4 linked regions of the Homo sapiens genome follow. The protein of the gene in region 1 interacts with the protein of each later gene in a pairwise test. Each region holds a gene or a part of one and is shown in the gene's direction. Other genes may lie near its edges.

What was found.
Region 2: the proteins of KLHL2 (region 1) and BCAM interact in binary tests that used the Homo sapiens proteins (3 or more experiments, as listed by UniProt).
Region 3: the proteins of KLHL2 (region 1) and PADI6 interact in binary tests that used the Homo sapiens proteins (3 or more experiments, as listed by UniProt).
Region 4: the proteins of KLHL2 (region 1) and CCDC43 interact in binary tests that used the Homo sapiens proteins (3 or more experiments, as listed by UniProt).

What each region holds. Positions count from the first base shown.
Region 1 is NC_000004.12:165,308,524-165,315,561, forward strand, and holds part of KLHL2 (kelch-like protein 2), read left to right. Parts: intron 1-2,029; coding exon 2,030-2,227; intron 2,228-2,940; coding exon 2,941-3,042; intron 3,043-4,405; coding exon of another isoform or gene 4,406-4,428; exon of another isoform or gene 4,429-4,553; intron 4,554-4,714; coding exon 4,715-4,843; intron 4,844-5,502; coding exon 5,503-5,643; intron 5,644-7,038. UniProt on the Homo sapiens protein: Substrate-specific adapter of a BCR (BTB-CUL3-RBX1) E3 ubiquitin ligase complex that mediates the ubiquitination of target proteins, such as NPTXR, WNK1, WNK3 and WNK4, leading most often to their proteasomal degradation.
Region 2 is NC_000019.10:44,805,074-44,812,124, forward strand, and holds the start of BCAM (basal cell adhesion molecule isoform 1 precursor), read left to right. Parts: upstream 1-4,029; 5' UTR 4,030-4,051; coding exon 4,052-4,133; intron 4,134-6,151; coding exon 6,152-6,273; intron 6,274-7,051. UniProt on the Homo sapiens protein: Transmembrane glycoprotein that functions as both a receptor and an adhesion molecule playing a crucial role in cell adhesion, motility, migration and invasion.
Region 3 is NC_000001.11:17,389,162-17,396,199, forward strand, and holds part of PADI6 (inactive protein-arginine deiminase type-6), read left to right. Parts: intron 1-2,952; coding exon 2,953-3,064; intron 3,065-4,813; coding exon 4,814-4,921; intron 4,922-5,138; coding exon 5,139-5,293; intron 5,294-5,789; coding exon 5,790-5,946; intron 5,947-6,378; coding exon 6,379-6,502; intron 6,503-7,038. UniProt on the Homo sapiens protein: Structural constituent of cytoplasmic lattices, which plays a key role in early embryonic development. Cytoplasmic lattices consist in fibrous structures found in the cytoplasm of oocytes and preimplantation embryos.
Region 4 is NC_000017.11:44,676,927-44,679,801, reverse strand, and holds the end of CCDC43 (coiled-coil domain-containing protein 43), read left to right. Parts: intron 1-752; exon of another isoform or gene 753-758; coding exon 759-946; 3' UTR 947-2,362; downstream 2,363-2,875.

The sequences.
Region 1 (7,038 bases):
GTTATCATACTTCTTTTAGTTCAGTCCCTTCTCCAGACCCAGAGCCTTTGGTAGGGGGCACTTCATAGATTGATTCATTTATTTTCTTCCTCTCTGTGACCTAAAATTCTCTAAACCTTGGTAAGCATACTATGTTACTTCTAAGAGATGGCATATTTGTAGTGTTATTTTGTGGGTAGAGAAAGGAAAATGAAAATTGCAATGGGCAAGATTCCCACAATGAACATTCCCTGGAGTTAGTTATGATTTTGGGATACAGGATTGTTTCATGCTGAAACATGCTGCCTGGTATGTTGCTGCTCACGAGTCTCCAGGCCCTCTTAGGATGTCTGTTAAATTCTGTGCTAGCAGGGGGCCAAAACAGGCAACTTCATCTGAACTGGAAAGGTCTTGTTGCCATATGGAGGACTGCATTTCCGTGTATTTTTACAGGGGTGGGGGAATAAAGCACCAGAGGTTAAGACAGTAAGGGGCAGAGGTACATCTCTTGCCTGATAACATCTGCAAAACATTGAGCTCGTCAAACATATCTGGTGATTCCAGTTCTCCCTACAGGGATTCAGAGAACTGTGAGCCACATTGCCTGCCCTCAGGCTGGCACAGGGACATAAACATTATAGAACTAAGAACAATAAAAATTTGAACAATTTAAAGTAATTATATTATAGACGGTACATTTATTAAACCTGAAGTACACAACATAGATGTTATTTGCTATAGGGTTCGGGAGCTGGACATAATCCCTTTTAGGCTAAAGTGGACAGGGAAGGCATCATAGAGAATGTGGAACTTTAACTGAGGATTCAGAGTTAAAGAGAACAGAGTAGATGGTGATAGGAGCCTGTCCGATTAGGACAGCAGCATGAAAAAAGTTGAGAAAAGTGAAAAGATGGTTGAAACCTGAGTCTAGCAGTCTAGTTTCTCCATTCACTGATTCCGTAATATCTCTTTAGCCCAAGGATCAGCAGACTTTCTCTTGAAGGACCAGAGAATAAGTATTTTAGGCTTTGTGGTTATATGGTCTCTGTCACAGCTTCTTATCTACTGCTATAGTGCAAAACCAGCCATATGTAAATGAATGAGTGTGGCAGTGTTCCAATAAAACTATATTTATGGATGGTGAAATTTGAATTTCATATAGCTTTTTACATGTCATGAAATATTATTCCTCTTTTGGTTGTTTTTCAGCCATTTAAAAATATAAAAACCATGCTTAGCTTATGGGTTCTACAGAAATAGTTCGCTGGACCAAATTTAGCCTGTAGCTGTAAATTTGCCGACCCCTGATTTAGCCCACTAACATGATAAACTAGGAATACGTTATGCAAATAAATTATAAGCGTATGGAGTTTCATTCTAAGAATATCCACTAGAAGATCCAAAATTGAAAGCTATGGGAGGTGAGTACAGGTTCAAGTAGTTGGAAAATAATGGCTCATTATTTAAGCTTGTAAATTGATATTTAAAAAAACCAAGAGTCAACATGGTACTTTAGCCCATGCCATTGCATTTTTTAATAACCTTAGAAAGAAGGCCAGGTGCAGTGGCTCACGCTTGTAATCCCAGCAGTTTGGGAGGCCAAGGCGGGCAGATCACGAGGTCAGGAGATCAAGACCACAGTGAAACCCCATCTCTACTAAAAATACAAAAAATTAGTTGGGTGTGGTGGCGGGCGCCTGTAGTCCCAGCTACTCAGGAGGCTGAGGCAGGAGAATGGTGTGAACACGGGAGGCTGAGCTTGCAGTGAGCTGAGATGGCGCCACTGCACTCCAGCCTGGGCGACAGAGTGAGACTCCGTCTCAAAATAAAGAAAGGAAGAAATAATAATAATAATAACCTTAGAAAGAAAGACAATTTAGTGATTGGATGTTCTTGCAAATGAATAGCATTTTCAAGGATTTATTTAATCAGGCTCCTCCTAAGAGTAGCATGTTCTGACAACAGCTATAGATTTATCAGAAAGCAATCTTTGGATATTGGTGGTAGTTGAGTTGCATGTTGATCATTAAATGCTGTACTCCTTTTGCAGGCATGGTCTACATGGCTGGACTTGTTTTTGCTGTTGGTGGCTTTAATGGCTCATTAAGAGTTCGCACTGTAGATTCCTACGACCCTGTGAAGGACCAGTGGACCAGCGTTGCTAACATGAGAGACCGGAGAAGCACTTTGGGAGCTGCTGTGTTAAATGGATTATTATACGCTGTGGGAGGCTTTGATGGGAGTACAGGTAATTTCCTTTTCATTTATTCTACATTGCTGCTAAAATTAACGTAGTAGTCATGTTTATGGAATAAATTGTGGCAACATTAGGGCACATGTGAGGTTTTTTGTGTTTTTTTTTTTTTTTTTGAGATGGAGTCTTGCTCCGTCGCCCAGGCTGGAGTACAGTGGCGCAATCTCGGCTCACTGCAAGCTCCGCCTGCCGGGTTCATGCCATTCTCCTGCCTCAGCCTCCCGAGCAGCTGGGACTATAGGTGCCCGCCACCACGCCCGGCTAATTTTTTTTGTATTTTTTAGTAGAGACGGGGTTTCACCATGTTAGCCAGGATGGTCTCAATCTCCTGACTTTGTGATCCGCCCACCTCGGCCTCCCAAAGTGCTGGGATTACAACATGTGAGGTTTTAACTGGTATTTAAAGATAAGTTTAAAATTTTATCAAGAATTTCCTTAAATGATATGAGTGGTGAGTATATAAATTTTCTTTCTTATGCATCAGTATCAGTCATCAAATTTTAAAAGCTTATAAATATCAGTAGCTTAGGTAGGAGCCTTCTGGAAAACAAGCTGTACCTGTTTTTCATGTAATTGCTGTGTTTATGTTCCACCATTTTCTTCTCTTAATTTTAGCCCAGTATAACATACCTGAAGTATTTTTCCATATATATGAACTATTGACATTTTTTAGAGAAGGAAATGAAGACTATTGTGCTTTATTATAGGTTTGTCATCTGTGGAAGCATACAACATAAAGTCTAATGAGTGGTTTCATGTAGCTCCCATGAATACAAGGAGGAGCAGTGTTGGTGTGGGTGTTGTTGGAGGTAGGTGTTGACAGTTCTTTCAGGTACATGTGGCATTTTGATCCTTGAGAGTGGTTCTTCCAGTAATCTCAACTTTAGTTTTCTGAATGGGCAAGCTAATTATCATTTTAAAAAGAAAAGTCGTAATTACTGTAAAATTTCAGTTATCCTCTTTTTAAAATTAGCTTCTCTATATAAATCAACCTATATAAAGCCTTTTCTCTCCCTCTCTATCCCCCTCCCTTTATCCCTCCTCCTTTCTCTCTGTGTGTGTGTGTGTGTGTGTGTGTGTGTGTGTGTGTTTGACTTATATAACTGTGTGTGTTTGACTTATATAACACGTGTGTGTTTGACTTATATAACAGCAGTCCCCAACCTTTTTGGCACTAGGGACTGGTTTTGTGGAAGACAATTTTTCCATGGACAGGGGTGGGTTGGGGGGATGGTTTTGGGATGAAACTGTTCCCACCTCAGATCATCAGGCATTAGAGTGTCATAAGGAGTGCACAACCTAGGTCCCTCAAATGTGCATTTCAAGATAGGGTTCACACTTCTGTGAGAATCTAATGCCGCTGCTGATCTGACAGGAAGTAGAGCTCAGCTGTAATACTTGCTCACCTGCCGCTCACCTCCTGTTGTGCAGCCCGGTTCCTAACAGGTTCCAGACAGGTACCGGTCCATGGCCTGCGGTTTGGGGACTGCTGCTGTATAAGACTGTCAACTGATTTTAACAGTTGCTTGGGGGAACAATTCAGGTGACATAAATGTGTAATTTTATATCTGGAGAAGGGCTGTTAAGGGATGGATTGCCACAGTTATTTATTTATATCCTACTTTGTCTCCCAACAGAAGTTAAGGAAGGCTCTAAGTATTATTATTATTATTTTTTTTTAATTGACTTGGGCAAATTTGCAGGTTTCCACCCCCTCCTCATCGTAGGTGTAATCTGTGCACTTAGAAAAAAACAGCTTTATTGTGATATAATCCACATCATACAATTCACCCATTTCATGTATACAGTTCATTGTGCATCCATCACTGCAATTCATTTTAAAACATTTTTATTATCCTCTAAAAGCAATCCTGCTTCCCTTGGCTCTTACTCGTATCTTACCCAACCTTCAGCAACTGCTAGTCTACTTTCTATCACTTAGAGATTTGCCTCTTCTGAATATTTTAGTCATACAGTATGTGATCTTTGGTGACTCACTTCTTTGGCTTAGGGTGATGTTTTCAAGATTTGTTTATTTATACTGAGGCATTTATTAGTACTTCATGCCTTTTTAATGCCAAGTAATATTGCATTGCATTCTGTTATTAATTTTTGATTTAACCTTTTTTCCGATTTCCTAAGATAACTTTGGTATTTAATTCTGTCTTACAGGATGTTGTTCACTTATCAAATAGTGTTACCTAAAGATATAATGAGTGTGCTATTTTATCAGATTATTGATGAAAGTATAAAATTAACATCATCAGCTATACCCTGCAGATCTTCATAACATGATTTGATTACCCCATCTGTCACCATTAGGCAAGACCCTAATATATTTCATAAAAATCAGCAGCACTTTAAGGGGAAACTCTGCTGCCATGAAGGAAAATATATTAATATTTTCTGGCTTGAAAAATTAGTGTTTTTTGTTTGTTTGTTTTTTAATAAATTTGGCTTTCTATGTGATTTTATGTGTAGGTTTGCTCTATGCTGTAGGAGGTTATGATGGAGCATCACGTCAGTGTCTTAGCACAGTAGAATGCTATAATGCTACAACAAATGAGTGGACCTATATAGCAGAAATGAGCACCAGGCGGAGTGGAGCAGGTACATGTGAACCTGTTTTAGCAACTGAAGCACAAAAATGATGGAAAATAGTTAAAGTAAAATGATTCAGTGGCATCACTTTACATTATCTGAAAATATATGATATGCTGATTTTAGTGGCACTGCTAAATGTCTTTTGAATTGTGCAGGTAATGGGAGTAATTACAAAGTAATTTTACTTTAAAATTTAATGTCTAAGTGCCATAGACATTTCTGTTTCATTTATATATTCAAGTTGTTAGCACTCCTTTTAGTTTTTTGTTTTTAGTGCTTATTGGGGAACTTGCTTAATAATCAAGTCTTTTCATGTATATTTCTTAAAATTTTGTGCTTTAATATGCGGTTATTTTACTATGGATATTGTTTTCAAAAGGATTACATTAAAGGACTTTTTCCCTCCCTGTGTTTCACCTACATGTTATTAATATTTTTATTCTGTTTGACATGCCTCTTTTTTCAGAATAATAGTTTGTTGAGATGCTTATTTAATCATCAATTGTATTGATTTCCATTTCTTAAATTGTAGGCTATAGTATCAGCTTGCTTTTATTATGAATTATAACTTCGAAAGTTTTAGTTACAAGTCATTTAAATAAACCTAATATGATATAAATCTCTTGTTCTTTTTGCCCCTCTATTTGGCTGGTTGTGTTTTATAGGTGTTGGTGTGTTAAACAATTTATTGTATGCTGTAGGAGGTCATGATGGCCCTTTAGTACGAAAAAGTGTTGAAGTATATGATCCCACCACTAACGCATGGAGACAGGTTGCAGATATGAACATGTGCAGAAGAAATGCAGGTATCTGTCAGTTTAAGGTTATAAAACTTATGTTGAATTTTATTTTAAGTTTCACTGGTATCACTCTATCAATGAATATCAATGGTATTTCCATTGTTCTTTTACTGATCTGGGTTCCCTGATAGACTCTGAACTCTTTAAAGCCAGAAACTTATGTAATAATCCTATAAAGTGAATGCCTGCCATAGTCTCTGGAACATAACAGGTTGTTGTGACACTTCAGTAAACTCATCATTTCTACTAGCTGCTACTTTTTGGTGATAAATGTGGAGACTAATTAAATTAGGTGTAGACCCTTTAAATGATACTGAATTCATTCATTCTTACAACAGATATAATTTAGTGCCTACTATGTATCTATCATACACTGGAGATCCTAGTTCTCAGGAAATTTAGTCTAGTTGAGTAGATATTTATACTAGGTTAAAAAGCTAGTTGATTATCTAAATCTAGAGGGGAAGTCTGCAAAGGTAACCCTAGCTTAATACAGTTCAGGATTTCCAGAAAAATGGAAAAACTAAAGCAACAACAATAACAACAAATAATTTTAAGAAAGTAGAGAACTTCAAGATTAGGGAACTAACCACTTAAAAAGAAGAATCAAGAAAGGGAAATACAAATGGAAAATAGACTCAAGATAGCTACATAGCCTTTCAGGAAATGCTAGGATTCTTCAAAATGCCATTATCTTCATGTCATTTCTCATAGTGTAAAATAAGTTCCTGGTGAGTCTCAAACTTACTGTACACCATTGGACACCCCCCTCCATCAGCGCTCATCTTAGTTTCTCTTTAAAGAAGGGTGATTACTAAGAGAGACTAAGTATGTGGAACTGCAGATACTGTTGGCAGCAGACCAGAATTTATAGTTAATTCTGTTTGGCCTTGCACGTCATCTAGTCAGTTGTATATGGTAATCAGTTCGTTAGATGGTAAGACCCTCAAATATGGGTCCTTAGTAGAATAAGTGACTCCAGTATACATTAAGTTAGAAAAGCCATGGTGATTTGTGCATGTGTCTTCCTGGATTAGGAAATTTAGTTGCAATTTGAGCTTTTTATGAATATTTTCTTAAAGGTTAGACTAATTTATTTTTTCTCTATATGTGTTTATTGTTTTCATATCAAAATTCACTCATTTAGGTAGAAGAATAAAGAGATAATTTGTATATATAGAGCTACCATTATCCTGTTCTTCAAAAAATTGTGTGGGAAAGGGTAGGATTTAGGAAAAAGACGTAAGTCTCTGTTGAAAAGTTGTTTCATATTTTGATTTAGACAACATTACTTGAGTTTATTTGATAATCAGGAAGAGAGAGAAATCTGAAAGCTTACTTTTCAGTTTGTTTTTCCTTCTCAATCAATGATGTTTATTTTCTATGCAAATAACAAAATTT
Region 2 (7,051 bases), on another chromosome or scaffold:
CTCCCACCTCAGCCTCCTGAGTAGCTGGGACTACGAGCACAAACCACCACCACCCCCGGTTAATATGTATTTTTTGTAGATACAGGGTTTTGCCATGTTGCCCAGGCTGGTCCCAAATTCCTGGGCTCAAGCGATCCACCTGCCTCAGCCTCCCAAAGTGCTGGGATTGTAGGTATGAGCCACCACAGCTGGCTTTGAATGTTCAATATCAATAGGCCCTTTGCAGAAGTTCTTATCGAAACTTTCCCCGCACAACCGTCTCTCATTGTACAATCAAAAAATGCATTCACACTGCCACCCAATACAAAAAATTTCAATAGTTCCATTTTCCAGATCTGAGACTGGAATCAGGGAAGAACCATTCCCCTCCAAATATGTCATTCTCCCCATATTCCACAAGCTGTGAGCTAGTTGTAAAGTTAATCGTCACACACTGTGTGAAAAATAATGGGAAAAAAGGTCAAGAAAAGATAAGTCAGCCAGGCACTGTGGCTTCCGCCTGTAATCCCAACATTTTGGGAGGCTGAGGCTGGTGGATCACCTGAGGTTAGGGGTTCGAAACCAGCCTGGCCAACATGGTGAAACCCTGTCTCTACTAAAAACACAAAATTAGCCGGGCATGGTGGCGCATGCCTGTAATCCCAGCTACTTGGGAGGCTGAGGCAGGAGAATTGCTTGAACCTGGGAGGCGGAGGTTGCAGTGAGCCAAGATCACGCCATTGCATTCCAGCCTGGGCAACAAGAGTGAAACTCTGTCTCAAAAACAATGAAAAGGTAAGTCTGGCCAACCGTGGTGGCCCACACCTATAATCCCAGCACTTTGGGAGGCTGAGGTAGGAGGATCGCTTGAGCCCAGAGTTTCAGAAAAGATAAGCCTTGTTAGTTAAAATATGTGAGGATATACACCTGCGGCCGCATGGATGGAATTAGAACTTTTTTTTTTTTTTTTTTTTTTTTTGATACTGAGTCTCGCTCTGTCACCCAGGCTGGGGTGCAATGGCATGATCTCAGCTCACTGCAACCTCCACCTCCTAGGTTCAAGCAATTCTCCTGCCTCAGCCTCCCGAGTAGCTGGGATTACAGGCACCTGCCACAACCCCTGGCTAATTTTTTTATTTTAAGTAGAGAGGGGGTTTCACCATTTTGGCCAGGCTGGTCTCAAACTCCTGACCTCGGGTGATCCACCCACCTCGGCCTCCCAAAGTGCTGGGATTGCAGGCATGGGCCACCATGACTGGCCATTTTTATATTTTTTTGTAGAGACGGGGTTTCGCTATGTTGCCCAGGCTGGTCTCAAACTCCCGGGCTCAAGCAGTCCTCCCGCCTCAGGCTCCTAAATTGCTGGGATTACAGACGTGAGTCCCTGCGGCTGACCTGGACCTCAGCTTTTACCCTAAGTGAGACAGAAGTCATGGGAGGACCCTGGGGCAGAAGAGTGACATGAGTTGATTCACATGTAAAAGGAATCCTTCAGGCTGTTTTGTGAGAATAAATTACAGGGGACAAAGGCAGATGATGTTACAAGACTAGTTTCTGCAAGTCTGCAAGGGTCCACGGCTGCTGTTTTGGTGTTTCTGACTTTTCTCCTTCATACACATGCCATAGAGTTCTCCTCCCTCACCCAGAACCTCAGATGGCTAGGTTCTTCTTTTTTTTTTTTTTTTTTTTGAGACAGAATTTCACTCTTGTTGCCCAGGCAACATCGTGCAGTGGCACGATCTCAGCTCAGTGCAACCTCCACCTCCCAGATTCAAGCGATTCTCCTGCCTTAGCCTCCTGAGTAGCTGAGATTACAGGCATGTGCCACCACGCCCAGCTAATTTTGTATTTTTAGTAGAGATGCGGTTTCACCATGTTGGTCAGGCTGGTCTCGAACTCCTGACCTCAGGTGATCCACCCACCTCGGCCTCCTAAAGTGCTGGGATTACAGGCATGAGCCACAGCGCCCAGCCTCAGCTGGCTGGGTTCTTGAGGGAGGTGGAAGTGGGCGATGGCTGCTGAGAGGGCATGTACCAGGGTCCAGCCCAAACAGAAGGTGCACAGGCTGGGGACAGAAGAGCTAGGGTATGGGTGTCGGTGCTCACAGTGTGTGAGCTTGACAGCACCTGGGACTGTCTTGGAGTGCCGCCGCATTCCCCATGAGTGAGTTTGTATTGTATATCCTGGGATGCTCCAGTCTGGATGGAATCTGCACGTGAGTTTGTGTGCCTTGCAAACAAACCTTCCCTGAGCACCTGCACTGTGTCTGGTCTTGTGCTGGGCGGGGTGCCCAGGGGAGGAGCCCTTAGCTCACCACAGTGATCAAGACATCCCTGGCCCTGCCCTCACAGGCTCACAGTCCACTGAGGGAGACAGACCTATCCCCAGCCAGGGACCCCCAGAGTGTGCCGGGCTCAGGTGGGGGAGCCCAGAGGGGGAACCTGACCCAGCCAGGGAAGGCAGAGGGGACTTCCTGGAGGAGGGGATGGTACAGTTAATCCTAAAAGGTCTTTCCCAATGTAACAGTTGCTCTGTAGGATGGATGCAGTGGCTCATGCCTGTAATCCCAGCACTTTGGAAGGCAGGAGGATCACTTGAGCCCAAGAGTTGGAGACCAGCCTGGGCAACATAGTAATACCCTGTTTCTATTACCAAAAAAATACAAAAATTAGCTGGACATGGTAACACAAGCCTATAGTCCCAGCTACTTGGGAGGCTGAAGTGGAAGGATTGCTTGAGCCCAGGCGGTTGAGGTTTGAATGAGCTATGATTGCGCCCACTGCATTCCCGGCTGGGCAACAGAGCGAGACCCTGTCAAAAACAAAACAAACAAACAAAAAAAACGTTGGTCTCCTGTATGACCAATGGATAAAGTAACCTTGACCAGTCTAATAACTCCCAGGCTGACCTGTAATCCAAGCCTTCTCTGTATGTCTGAGCAGGCAAAGCCCAGCTCCAGGGCTACCTCAACCCCCAGGCTGATCAGAAGCTTGGGTAACCTCTCCCAGTGTGGCCAGCGACCCCCCACCCTCCCACGTTCTGACCACTGTCCTGGGCAACTAGTGACATCTAGTGGGGGATTTTGTCCCAGTCTGACCTGGCCTGTAGGGGCCTTGGGCAGTCGGACCTGTGACCCACGCTTCCTAGCAGTGGCTGGACTCCTCCCCCTTCCCGCAGGTGCCCTGGCCTCTTCCCCTGCCCTCCTCACCTGCTCTGGCCAGTCTGACTCCTCCCTTCCCCACAAGGTTGGGAGGGAATGAAGGAGAGAGCGGGAAGGAGGAAGGGAGGGTGGCATTCCTGGGATTCCCTGGATAGGGGGAAGAGTGGGAGGGCCTTCCATGGGTGAGCAAGCAGAGAGGGCACCCCGTACCCCACCCCCAGCCCCATCATCGAAGCGGCCTAGGAGGACCTGGATTTGAAGACCATTGAAAATAAGAGATTAAACCGGTTGATTCCAGGCTACTGGTCAGACGAGGAAAGCAGCCCAGAGCACTGACCACAGGGGAAAACATCTCCGGGCATACTGGGAGCAGCTGCTGGGGGCCACTGGTCAGGCTGCGGGGGTCACTGGTTGGACTGGGAGAGGCCAGTGCAGGCCACTCGGACGGCACGCTTGGGGCCATTAGTTACACTGGGAGAGGCCATCGCAGGCCACAGGTTGCAGTGGGGTCCTCTGGTTAAAATCGACGATGCCAGCCCAGGCTGCTGGTCACAGTGGGGACGAGTCCCCAAGGCCCCTGGTCAGAATAACGAGGAGAAGGTCCGCGATTGCCTGGTGAGATCCCAGCTCGGGTCACTGGCTACGCTGGTCGATCAGGCCCCCCGCTGCAGGCGCTGGTCAGTAAGCCCGGACAGCTCTAGGCTTGGGGGCGGACGAGCCCCGAGCCTGGCCCCGTGCACTGGGAGGTCCGCTCCGGGCAGTGGGAGGTCCTGGCCCCGCGCCCGGGCATCGGGGGACGAGGGGGGCCTGGAGGGCGGGGCGGGGCGGGGCTGCCGGGGGCGGGGCCTCTGGCTCCCAGCCCCGCAGCGGCCGAGCTGCAGCCCGGGCTCAGTCTCCGCCGCCGCCGTGAACATGGAGCCCCCGGACGCACCGGCCCAGGCGCGCGGGGCCCCGCGGCTGCTGTTGCTCGCAGTCCTGCTGGCGGCGCACCCAGGTATGGCTCGGGCTGAGGGCAAGGTGGGACTGGGGAGAGGCCCCTGGGGACCCCGGGAAAGCGAGGAGAAAGGGCTTTACCCTGACCCCAGGAAGCAAAATGTGGGGACCCCAAGGAGGAGGGATATGGGAGTGTTGGAAGGTACGCCTTCCAGTGAGAGAGATCTGGGGACAGCCAGGCAGGAGAGCTGGGGATACCCAGGCGGTGGATCAGAGACAACCAGAGAAGTCAGCCCCCTTCCCACTCAGCACCCTGGAATCTGGGTCCCACCTGCCTCCTCCCTCAGACCCTGGAATCTGGGCCCCCAGCCCCTCTTTCCTCAGACCCAGGAGTCCAGGCCTCCAGTGGCTAGAATAGCTTCCCCCAGGGCACAGAGGATCAAAACCCCAGGGCTCTCTCCCTCAAAGGTCCTCAAGTTTTGAGAGGTCCAGGGACCCCTTAGAGAAGCGAGGACCATGTGTCCCCACACCAGCGATCCACATGTATTTAGGAGTTTCCAGAGTCCAGTATAAAGAACCCGCCTCCCTCAGGAAAGGGCTGGAGCACCAGCCCCGGGCAGTGACAGTGGAACAAAGTGTTTCCAAGTGACAGGCCCCCTTCCTGGGGCCTCAGCTACATTTACACACCTGCATGAGGATAGAAGGAGAGGAGGCCGGGGGCTGGGGGGTGGGGGTGGGGGTGCTGGGGACAGAGGGACAGAGAGATGAGAGAGATTGGGGAAGAGAGAGGAACTCTCTGCCTCCACTTGTCTGCAGATCAGACCCAGCCTTAGGCACCAGCCTGGACCCCGTCACCCCTCCCTGGGGACAGGCTGGGGCCAGAGGTGAGCGCTTGGGAATCCAGGCCCCTGGCACACTCATGGTCAACAGTGGGTCCCCAGGGGTAGGGCTGGGCCAGATTGAGCAGAGAAGGGAAGGGAGTTTCTAAGAAGCACTGAGAGCTGATGCCAGGATGCCAGCCCAGAGGGTGAGGGAGGGTGGTGGTTTTTCTACAATAACTACTCCACCAGGCCCCAGCCTCCTCTTCCCTCTGATCCCAGGAGTCCAGGTGCCCAGCTTCCCAAGATCCTGGGCCTCAACCTTATCCTTTTGCAAGATGACTCGACTTATCCCGTTTGCTGTTGTATCAAACTGAGGGGGGCCAAGAGGCGGCTGGGGGCTCTGGCTCCAGGCCGGGCAGGTCTCAGCCAGCCTGTCCCTCCCACATTCCTGAAACCTGCCCAGCCCTGTCCCCCCTCACCGCCCCCACACATCCATCCCGCCTAAGCTCCGGGCCCAGCCGCAGCCCACACCCCAGCCCCTCACTCATGGGAGAGCGGAAGAGACCCAGGGACTGAGTGGTGCAGGTGCAGAGAGAGGCAGAGACAGGGACAGAGATGGAGACCCAAGAGGAGAGACACACGCAAAGGTGGAGACCAGGATGGAGAGAAACATTTATCCATCATCACAGAGGTGGCCCTGCCCAGGGTGCTGGAGGCAAATGGCTGAGCCAGGCCTGGCCCTGCCCTGGGGGGTGGCGTGTGCTCTGTTGGGATAAGCAAAGGCTGGTGCAGTATTACCCCAGGAGTGTTCAGCGGAGGCCACAGGGCCCTGTGCAGCCCAGAGGAGGAGCCCTGAGCTCTGCAAGTGCAGGGAGAGATGGATTTGAGACCCAGAGATGCAGGGAGAAGGGATGGAGGGCGAAAGGATCTCAGGGAGGAGGGGCTGGGGCCTAGACTCCTGGGTCTGAGGGAGGAGGGGCTGGGGCCTGGACTCCTGGGTCTGAGGGAGGAGGGGCTGGGGCCTAGACTCCTGGGTCTGAGGGAGGAGGGGCTGGGGCCTAGACTCCTGAGTCTGAGGGAGGAGGGGACAGGGGCCCAGATTCCTGGGTCTGAGGGAGGAGGGGCTGGCACCTGGACTCCTGGGTCTGAGGGAGGAGGGGCTGGGACCTGGACGCTTGTGTCCTGGGGGAGAGGGGACCCTGTCTGGAGGGCTCTTCCTGTTGGTGTGGTGGATGATAGCTCAGTTGCTCTCTTGCAGATGCCCAGGCGGAGGTGCGCTTGTCTGTACCCCCGCTGGTGGAGGTGATGCGAGGAAAGTCTGTCATTCTGGACTGCACCCCTACGGGAACCCACGACCATTATATGCTGGAATGGTTCCTTGTGAGTGCTTGGGGCTGGGGGGCCTGGAGTCAGGGCACAGCAGGGCAGCAAAGGTTCATTCTCTCATCAGTGCCTAAGGCCTGTAGAGATCCACCAAGCCACACTCCTTGTTACAGATGGGGTCACTGAGTCCCACTGAGGGGAAGGGATCTGCAAGGTGCCCCGTGTCTAGGCACAGCCAAGTCTAGAATGACATTGACCTGCTCTGGACTGCGGGCTCTTGAGAGAGAGAACAGAGACAGACATCAAGAAAGCAGAAGCCAGGCACGGTGGCTCACGCCTGTAATCCCAGCACTTTGGGAGGCCGAGGCGGGTGGATCACGAGGTCAAGAGATCAAGACTGTCCTGACCAACATGGTGAAACCCCGTCTCTACTAAAAATACAAAAATTAGCTGGGCGTGATGGCATGTGCCTGTAATCCCAGCTACTCAGGAGGCTGAGGCAGGAGAATCGCTTGAACCTGGGAGGTAGAGGTTGCAGTGAGCCGAGATCGAGCCAATGCTCTCCAGCCAGGCGACAGAGCAAGACTCTATCTCAAAAAAAAAGAGGAAAGAAAATGAGAGACAATCGGGAGAGGGAGAGACCAAGAGGAGAAGGGATGGGACCGGAATGAGATGGAGAAAAGGAGACAGGAAAAATCAAGAACTGATAGGGAATGGGGGCAGGAGAAGGTGGGGAGGGACAGAGGGACCAGGGAGACCCATAACAAGAGGAAAAGAGGCAGAGCCAGGAGCTGCAGAGAGAAAGGACCCAGAGAGAGAGAGACTGAGGAGCGCT
Region 3 (7,038 bases), on another chromosome or scaffold:
GGAGAGGTCAGGATGAGAACCTGTCCCAGGGACGATGAAGCTCCTACGGAGCCAGAGAACAGGTGTGAGCCCAGGAAGGGGCGGTGTGGGGATGGGTGAAAAGAGCAGAGCCCTGTGGGCCCTGGGTGTTACGGTGAGGTAGCTGGGGCCATACCTACTCTAAATACAGTGGTGAAAGCTTTCTGTCACCTGGATGCCTGCAGGAAGATGGTACTGCTCGCCCACTGCCACTTAGGGGCCCTGGTTCCTTTCAGTCTTGTTATGCTTTCCCCTGGGGTGGCTGCCTCCTCTCTGGAGGCTGAGTGCACACATCCTAGGTCCAGGCCCGGGCCCCAGGAGGGAGAAAGAGCCAAGATTTGGACACTGCAACCTATGGTTGCTGCTAGTGGTCTGGAAGTCTCCTGAACCACTTCTCACATGCCAAAATCCTGAACACGCACGGGGCCACGTCCGGCTTCAGGGAATCCAGGAGCAGTCTCTAGCTATGTAGCCACATGCCTAGGGAGAAAAGGAGATAGGATCCTGAAGGCAGAACCAGTGGGAAGCCAAGGGTTCTGTCTGCATGATCACTCTGGCCACATGGAAAGTCAGGTACAGATAAAAGGTGGAAGACCAGTCTAGACACAGCATGGCTCAAGCCAGGGTGGCAGGAGCAGCCTTTAGTTGGGATTGGTCCGCAGGTAGGACACCCCCGCCCCACTCGCTCCACACCGGCCGCCTCCAGATTACTACCACCACGTTGCCCTTTATTGCAAATTCCTTAGGTGAAGGCTTTTTTGTTTTTTTAAGGTAGGAGGCAAAGGATAATGCTGATGGAATGCTCTAGCAGGGATGGGAAACACTAATAGGAAAAGGTGGCCAGTGTGGTGGCTCACACCTATAATCCCAGCACTTTGGGAGGCCGAGGCAGGAGGATCACCTGAGGGTCGGAAGTTCGAGACCAGCCTGGCCAACATGGTAAAACCCCGTCTCCACTAAAAATACAAAAATTAGCCAGATGTGGTAGTGCATGCCTGTAGTCCCAGCTACTCAGTGAAGCTGAGGCAGGAGAATCACTTGAACCCAGGAGACAGAGGTTGCAGTGAGCTGAAATAGCCCCACTGCACTGCAGCCTGGGAAACAAGAGCGAAACTGTCTCAAAAACAAAAAATAAAATTGCTGGGTGTGGTGGCTCATGCCTGTAATCCCAGCACTTTGGGAGGCTGAGGCGGGCGGATCACCTGAGGTCAGGAGTTCAAGACCAGCCTGGCCAACATGGTAAAACCCCGTCTCTACTAAAAATACAAAAAACAATTAGCCAGGCATGGTGGTGCACCCCAGTAATCCCAGCTACTCGGGAGGCTGAGGCAGGAGAATCTCTTGAACCCAGAAGGCGGAGGTTGCAGTGAGCCAAGATTGCACCACTGTACTCCAGCCTGGGTGACAGATAAGATTCCATCTCAAAAAAAAAAAAAGACTTCTACCCCTCTTCCAGGCTCCGTGGGTGTAGAAGCCAGACAGCTTTTCCAGGGCAGGGCTCCTGGGGAGTGTGGTCCTCAGAGGAATAGCAGGCTTCAGGATGAGAAGGTAAAATCTCAGAAAGTCTGATGGGATTCTGCTGATGGCAGATACAAAAGACATAAAGCAGAGAGATGTGGTATCTCGAGTATTTGAAGACGGGTTTCTCACTCACAGGAGGCATCTACTTGTTCTTCAAAGAAACCCAAGTCTTCCATACAGTGTGATATTCAGGCATGGTTTGACCCCATATAGCTGCATATGACCTGCAAGACTGAGCCGACACACCCTTCCCCCAGTAAGCGTCAGACTGTTCTAGACCTTGTCAGGCTGGTAGCTCCCTGTGGCTTTGCATAGACCCAAGAAATAGGTTCTTTGGAGCAGTAGCATAGATACTATGAATGTGCTATGCCAGTAGTTACATTGCTGTATTCTATTAGTAGCAACATGAGCTTTGGACCTGAAGCCGGACTACAGTCCCAATTTCAATATCTCCCAATATTAGGGCCTTGCTGACCTCCAACTTTTGAGGACCTGTTTGTTCCGTTTGTTTAAGATAATTTATTATTTTTTCTTTTTGAGATGGAGTCTCGCTCCGTTGCCCAGACTGGAGTGTAGTGGTGTGATCTTGGCTCACTGCAGCCTCCACCTCCAGGGTTCCAGCAATTCTCCTGCCTCAGCCTCCCGAGAAGCTGGGATTACAGGCATGTACTGCCACGCCCAGCTAATTTCTGTATTTCTAGTAGAGATGGGGTTTCACCATGTTGGCCAGGATGGTCTCAAACTCCCAGTCTTAGGTGATCCGCCCGCCTCAGCCTCCCAAAGTGCTGGGATTACAGGCGTGCGCCACTGCGTCCGGCCAGATGAGTGGTCTTAACATCAGCCTCACACACTGCTGTTTCCCTTCAAGGAAGGGATGGCCACTGTAGATCTGTGAGCCTGATGCTGTGCACAACGGCTTGAAGACCCCAGGGCTCAAGACCCACCCAACGCCACACATATAAAAATGACAACCATGCATGGTGGCAGGCGTATAGTCCCAGCTACTGTGGGGGGCCGAGGCAGGAGACTCACTTGAACCCAGGAGGTGGAGGTTGCGGTGAGTCAGATCATGCCACTGCACTCCAGCCTGGGTGACAGAACGAAAGGAAGGGTACTTGCAGAATGTGACCGAAGGGTATAAACAGAGCAGGCCTTGGCTACCAGGGAAGGGGCCGCCACTGGCACTTCCCAACCTGGCTCTGCCATGGGCAAAGCTGAGTAGTGTCAGACAAGATGGGCTCTGAGCTTCTGGCTTGTGCCGAGGTCAGGGATGGTTGCTCTGTCGACCTCACGGGCAGGGATGTAACCTCTCCTGGTGAGAAGGATGTGTTCTTCCTCTCTTGGCACAAGGAGGTCATAACCAGTAAGGGACCTTCGAAAGCCTTCCCAGAACTGGCTTCTCTCCCATGGCAGGGAGCTGCAGCTGCAGGGTTTTGTGGACACAGTGACGAAGCTGAGTGAGAAGAGCAACAGCCAGGTGGCATCTGTCTATGAGGACCCCAACCGCCTGGGCAGGTGGCTCCAGGTAACACCCCACCTGGGAACCCACCTGTCGGGGAGGGGTGGGGAGACTCAGCATGTGCCACCTAAGAGGAACTTCACAGGCTTCTGGTTAACCTTAAAGACCGAAGCCTTGATAGGGGCGGCCCTGTTCTTAGGACTTCAGTGGAGGCTCAGATGAGGATTTGCCTGAGTCATGGCCACTAAGGAATAGTTAGAGTCCAGCCTCCTTCCCATTCCAGAATGGACACGTGTTCAAGACCACAGAACCCTAACCCCCAGGCCCCGGAAGGCTCTGATACCTTTGGCTAAGGCTGTGAGAGCTGGGCCACTGCCCTGGGGTCCCGCCTGACTCTGGCACAGCACCAAGTCTAGAGCCCCGGTCAGCCTTCGGTTCTAGAGCTCTGTCCTCTGCAGATGAGTGATCATCACATGCTAGGCACGCCATCCTGAGCACCAGAGATAAACTGGAACATATGCTGTCCCATGTTAGCAAGGATAGAACTTTTAAGTGCTATGAAATTTAGACAATGAGATGATACAGTGATTCATTAGACCAAATGAGGCAGTTTAAGAATAGTTGGGAAAATCTGCAAATGAAACTTAAGGAAACAAGGAGCTGGCCATGCAGAGATTTGGGGCAGGGGTGGCCAGGATTAAAAGGAGTTCCTGGCCGGGTGCAGTGGCTCAAGCCTGTAATCCCAACACATTGGGAGGCTGATCACTTGAGGTCAGGAGTTTTAAAACAGCCTGGAAAACATGGCAAAATACTGTCTCTACTAAAAAAATACAAAAATCAGCCGGGCATGGTGGCGCGCGCCTGTAGTCCCACCTACTCTGGTCACTGAGGCAGAAGAATCGCTTGAACCCAGGAGGCGGAGGTTGCAGTGCACCTAGATCACGCCACTACACTCCAGCCTGGATGACAGAGCGAGACTGTCTCAAAAGAAAAAAAAAAATCTGGGGTTGTGCTTGGAGGTCTTGAAGAAGGCTGATGCAGACAGATCACAGTGAACAAAGGTGAAAGGCAGGGCTACCTCCTGGTTAAGGTACCTTTTAAGCTAAGGACAAACAAGAGACACTCAAAGCATGAATCGGGAATGAAAGGTTATAGTTCAGGTTTTCAAAAGACCCCTCTGGCTAAGATGTAGGGAACAGATCTTAAGAGTAGGCAAGAATAGAAGCGAAACTGGAAGGCATCACAGTGGCATAGGGTGGAGACACGGTGGCTTCCTGAGTGGCACCAGCGCAGAGCTGACTCAGAATGTAAGCCAGTAAGGCTTGTTAATGGATTCTTTACGAAAGAAGAAAGGAAGAATCTGGATGCTCAAGTCTTTTTCGCCCAGACTGGAGTGCAGTGGCGCGATCTCAGCTCCACTGCAGCCTCTGCCTCCTCCTGAGTAGCTGGGATTACAGGCATGAGCCACCATGCCTGGCTAACTTTTTGGTTTTGTTTTAAGTAGACTGTCTCACCATGTTTCCCAGGCTGGTCTTGAATTCCTAGGCTCAAGTGATCCACCCACCTTGGCCACCCAAAGTGCTGGGATTGCAGGCGTGAGCCACCACACCTGGCCATGGATGCTCAAGTCTTAAACCTGAAGAGTAGGGGAGAGAGGGATCGGAGAGCCTTCAAGAAGGGGTGATATCTGAGCTGGGTGTTGAGGGTTGAGCAGGAGTTGGCAGGAAGGAAGGGGGTTCTTACCGTACCTTTTCCGTAAATGGGGTCCGGGGAGATGTGTGACTGGCAAACAATCTGTCTTCCTCTCCATTCCAGGATGAGATGGCCTTCTGCTACACCCAGGCTCCCCACAAGACAACGTCCTTGATCCTCGACACACCTCAGGCCGCCGATCTCGATGAGTTCCCCATGAAGTACTCACTGGTGTGGAACTTGGTTTGGCTAATCTGAGCTCAGTCCAATCTCTCAGGCCTGGGGCCTGCCTAGAAATAATGGGGCACCAAGTGGGGAGAGGGCCCAGGTGGCCTCTGAGGGGGGAGGGGACGTGGAAGTCTACCTGAGAGCCTGGATTTAGGGATAAGACTGGGGCCTAAAGCCATCCCCTACTAACACCCCTTCCCTGGCTCGGTCTCTCCCCCAGAGCCCTGGTATTGGCTACATGATCCAGGACACTGAGGACCATAAAGTGGCCAGCATGGATTCCATTGGGAACCTGATGGTGTCCCCACCTGTCAAGGTCCAAGGGAAAGAGTACCCGCTGGGCAGAGTCCTCATTGGCAGCAGCTTTTACCCCAGGTGAGCCACAAAGCCAGACGCCTCCAAATGAAAGGAAGGGACCATGGTCGTTCCCCTGGCCCCGCCTGCTTCCCATAGCACCTCAGCAGGTCACACACACTGGACCATTTCTTAAACTGAAGACATTTGAGCTTTTGATTCACGTGGGAGACTAAAGATGAGAATAAACCATTTATTCTTTGATTCCAGGGTTTAAACTGAAACAAGTGAAATTTGGTCCACCAGGATGTCATTTCCAAGAGATATGTGGTTGGATTTCTTGGTGGCCATAAATCCAAAATGATACTTGTGCCCGGGCTTGTCTGTCTAGAAACACTAGGCTCTGTTCTGAGTGGGGTCAGAGTAAGGGATTCGTAACCAACACATCCGCTATGGACCGGCCTCTTTCACACAACGGTCAGAGGCCAGCTCCCTGGAGGCAGCATGACACCAAGTGGCGGGTGACCAGCCCTGGGCCACACTGGCTCAAGAGCTGTTCTTTCCATCTTCCTTCTAGCGCAGAGGGCCGGGCCATGAGTAAGACCCTCCGAGACTTCCTCTATGCCCAGCAGGTCCAAGCGCCGGTGGAGCTCTACTCAGATTGGCTAATGACTGGCCACGTGGATGAGTTCATGTGCTTCATCCCCACAGATGACAAGAATGAGGGCAAAAAGGTCTGCTTTGGGGTCTGGAGAAGGGACATCTGACCCTTGCCTTCTGTTGGGGAATCTTGGAAGATTCTGGAGAGAAAACTGGCTTTTTCTTGTTTTTTTTTTTTTTTGTTTGTTTTTTGAGAGTCTTGCTCTGTCACCCAGGCTGGAGTGCAGTGGCGTGATCTCCGCTCACTGCAACCACTGCCTCCCGGACTCAAGCAATTCTCCTGCCTCAGCCTCCTGAGTAGCTGGAATTACAGAAACATGCCACCACACCTGGCTCATTTTTGTATTTTTAGTAGAGATGGAATTTCACCATGTTGGCCAGGCTGGTCTCGAACTTCTGACCTCAGAGGATCTGCCTGCCTCGGCCTCCAAAGTGCTGGGATTACAGATATGAGCCACCATGTCCAGCTGAGAAAGCTGGCTTCTGACCCAAGTTCTGTTTCCCAGGGCTTCCTGCTGCTCCTGGCCAGCCCCAGTGCCTGCTATAAACTGTTCCGAGAGAAACAGAAGGAAGGCTATGGCGACGCTCTTCTGTTTGATGAGCTTAGAGCAGATCAGCTCCTGTCTAATGGTAAGGGAACTCCCTTTCCACAGAACAGAACTGGGGTCTTCCTTTTTCCAGGGGTCCTTTCTACATAGCCATTCTGTCACGCTTGGCGTAAAGGATGCCAGGGAAGCACAGAAGCTGTTGGAATTGCCATATTAGAACGTCTTATTTCTGGGCTGCTCTAGTGGTACTACAACACAAGTAGACCAGATGTTCTGGGATGGCCTGGAGGCTGTTTGGATGTATTTGAAGGGGGACTCACTTAGTACATAGGTGGCCCCAAGTGGGGGGAAAACGGGTGTTAACAATGCTAGTGCCTGGATTTATTCAGGGCATGTTGGATTAAGTATCTAGGGACTGGGACTTTGTGGGTCTCCTGGTTACATTAAGGAAACACACAGGTGGACAAGCAGAGGTGGTGTGGCTGGTGCCATTGCACTTCTGATCTAAAGGCTGTGGGAGTGGGCTGGGCATGGTGGCTCACACCTGTAACCCCAGCACTTTGGGAGGCTGAGGCGGGCAGATCACCTGAGGCCAAAAGTTCGAGGCCAGCCTGGCCA
Region 4 (2,875 bases), on another chromosome or scaffold:
CTGCCTTAGCCTCCCGAGTAGCTGGGACTACAGGTGTGTGTGCCACCATGCCCGGCTAATTTTTTGTATTTTTAGTAGAGACGGGGTTTCACCTGTTAGCCAGGATGGTCTCGATCTCCTGACCTCATGATCTACCTGCCTCAGTCTCCCAAGTGCTGGGATTACAGGCATGAGCCACTGCGCCCAGCCTAAACTCATTTTCTATCTCTTATAGATTCAGTGTGTATGGTTATTAGAATGTGGTTTTCACTTCAGCTTTAGTAGTCTAGGAACAAAAGCAAATTGATAAAGTTTAATAAGGTTAAACATCTTATTTAACTCTTTTAAGGCATTTTAACAGAGCCAAGTACATAAACATTTAGTCAGTTACATTACTACTCTGTTCACCAAAACTAGCCTAGATTCTCTAATATTCTGCCATTGAATGATATAAGTACTTATTCTAGAATGAAATTTCATTTTGATGAAATATTTTGTTTTCTTATTTTTTTGTTTCTTTGGTAAAATATTTTAAAATTCAGATTTAGGTAAATCTGAATAAGAGTTTTATTCCAAAGGACATTTTAAAACTTTTGTAATATAGCTTTAGGATTTCTCTGTTAGACCAAGGATAAACATAAGGGTTTTTTTTAAAAAACCAGGAATAGATAAAGACGATTCAGGACTCAGCAGGTGGAGAGAGGATAAGTAGAATGAGGAAAGGCAGCAGTAGGTGTGATCTGTGTGACCTGTACCCTAATCCCTTAACTCACCTGTAGTTCTGTTCCGAAACACCAATGTGGAAGATGTCCTTAATGCCCGAAAACTGGAGCGAGACTCACTTCGGGATGAATCCCAAAGGAAGAAGGAACAGGACAAGCTGCAGAGGGAGAGAGACAAACTAGCCAAGCAGGAGCGCAAGGAAAAGGAAAAAAAAAGGACACAGAGAGGGGAGCGAAAGCGATAACCTTGGCCTACTCTATTCTTTCCCCCCATGAACTTATCAAAGGGAGAACTGGTTGTGTATTTAAGAGAAATGAGAGTGCATTGCAAAGTAGTTTCCCAAGGCATTTCCCCTATTGTTTACATGGTCAAAAGGAAAATCAAAATCACTTCTAATTACAAAATGTGCTGTTTTGGTGGGGTGGGCAATCAGATTATTATAGTTGATGACTGTACCAAAGATCTGGAATGGGGGCCACCTTTATATTTTAATACTCAAGTCCTGTGCTCCTTTTGGCCACTTTAAAAAGTCTTCCCTCACCTTGGATAAATAGGATTCAGAAAGCTAACAGTTTTCATTCTGAAGGAGCAGAAACATAATCAATCCCTCCCTGAGATAAAATGTGGGCATGCACATTGCTTTGGAGTCAGTATTCAGCTGTAAGTGTAGTATTGTTTTATGGCTGAAATAGAAAGCTAATGAAGAGGCCTACCTGGATCCAGATTTTATGTTAACATGGCAGCAAAACTAGGAAAATGGGAAGAAATTACTTGCGGGGTGTTCTAGATCTGATTTTTTTTTTTTTTTTGAAAGTTTCAGCCTGTGGGAGGAAAAGAGGTATCTTTTAAAATAGAGATAGTTACATATTTTCCTCATCTAGGCTGTGTCACTATTGGGTGCAAGGATATCATTGTTGGCTAGATTCATTTTGTATAATCATGTATCCTCTTGTGTGCTGGTAGAGATTTTAATCCTGATTTTTCCATAAAACATGAGTATTAAGAAATAATTCCTGGTTTGGAGAAACTGGAGAAATCACCCTTTTAAGGAAGAAACACTGGAAATTTCTGCTAACACCAAGATATTTAAGAGTGTACATAGTAGGTGCTCAACAAATTTATTGAATGAATGAGTGAATGGAAAAACTGGGAGAGTCAAAAGTGAGCAGAAGCTCTCCATTTCTACTTCTGTCACAAACCACATTAAATTGTAAATAAGGCCCTTCTCCACTTGACTTCAGGCAGCAGATTGTCTAGAAGCCTAAGGACAGCAATTTCTCTGACAAGACAAAGTAGATATTTTATACCAGGGGTTGGCAAACTACTGCCCACGGGCCGAATTTGGCCCAGTCTGTTTTTGTATGGTGCAAACTAAAAATGATTTTTACATTTTTAAAGAGTTATAAAAGAAAAAAATATGTGGTCTGTGAAATCTAAAATATTTACTACCTGGCCTGTTGGAGGAAAGGTTTGCCAATCTCTGTTTTATACCATTAACTATGAGATTAACAAAAACTTTTACCTTTGTGCAGAAGGTTAAAAAAAAAAAAACATGGTTAAGGAAAAGGAGACATGTTACCTCTTCATACACTCCTATAACTGTGGCATTGCAAAAAATAAAAATAACCACCTTTAAAAAAATAAATCTTATTTAAATTGCTGTCTTCTGACTTATTTTGATTGCTTCTACGTACCCATGGAAATGAAATATGTGTGAGTAGTTACTTAGGAATGTGTTGATTTTTATTTTATGCTTTGTTTTGATTAGCCCTATAACTTATATTCCACTAGTGGAAGCTCTTCCTGGAATCCATAAATCCTCTTTCTCAATTTTCCTTTTTGTGAAGTAGGAATTAGATCAGAAAGATTAGCATGTTTTTTGGAACATCAGGAAATTGGCTTAGAGGTCCTTACTATTACAGTCTTAGTCCTTTATGTGGTGGTAGCGATAGGGTATGATAGAGCCTATTTTAATTTAGTAATCCTTATTTTGGGATTTTGGGTTGTTCTCACCTTGATTTTTGTCACTGAAGGAGTCAGGTTATATCCACGGTCCCCTGAAGGGTACTTGTTTCAATTTGTTAGTAGTCAGTTCTTTCTTCTGGGACTCTGCTATGTATGTCACAGTTAAGTATACTCTCAAACTAATGCTTAAACAGAAAATAGAGGATCA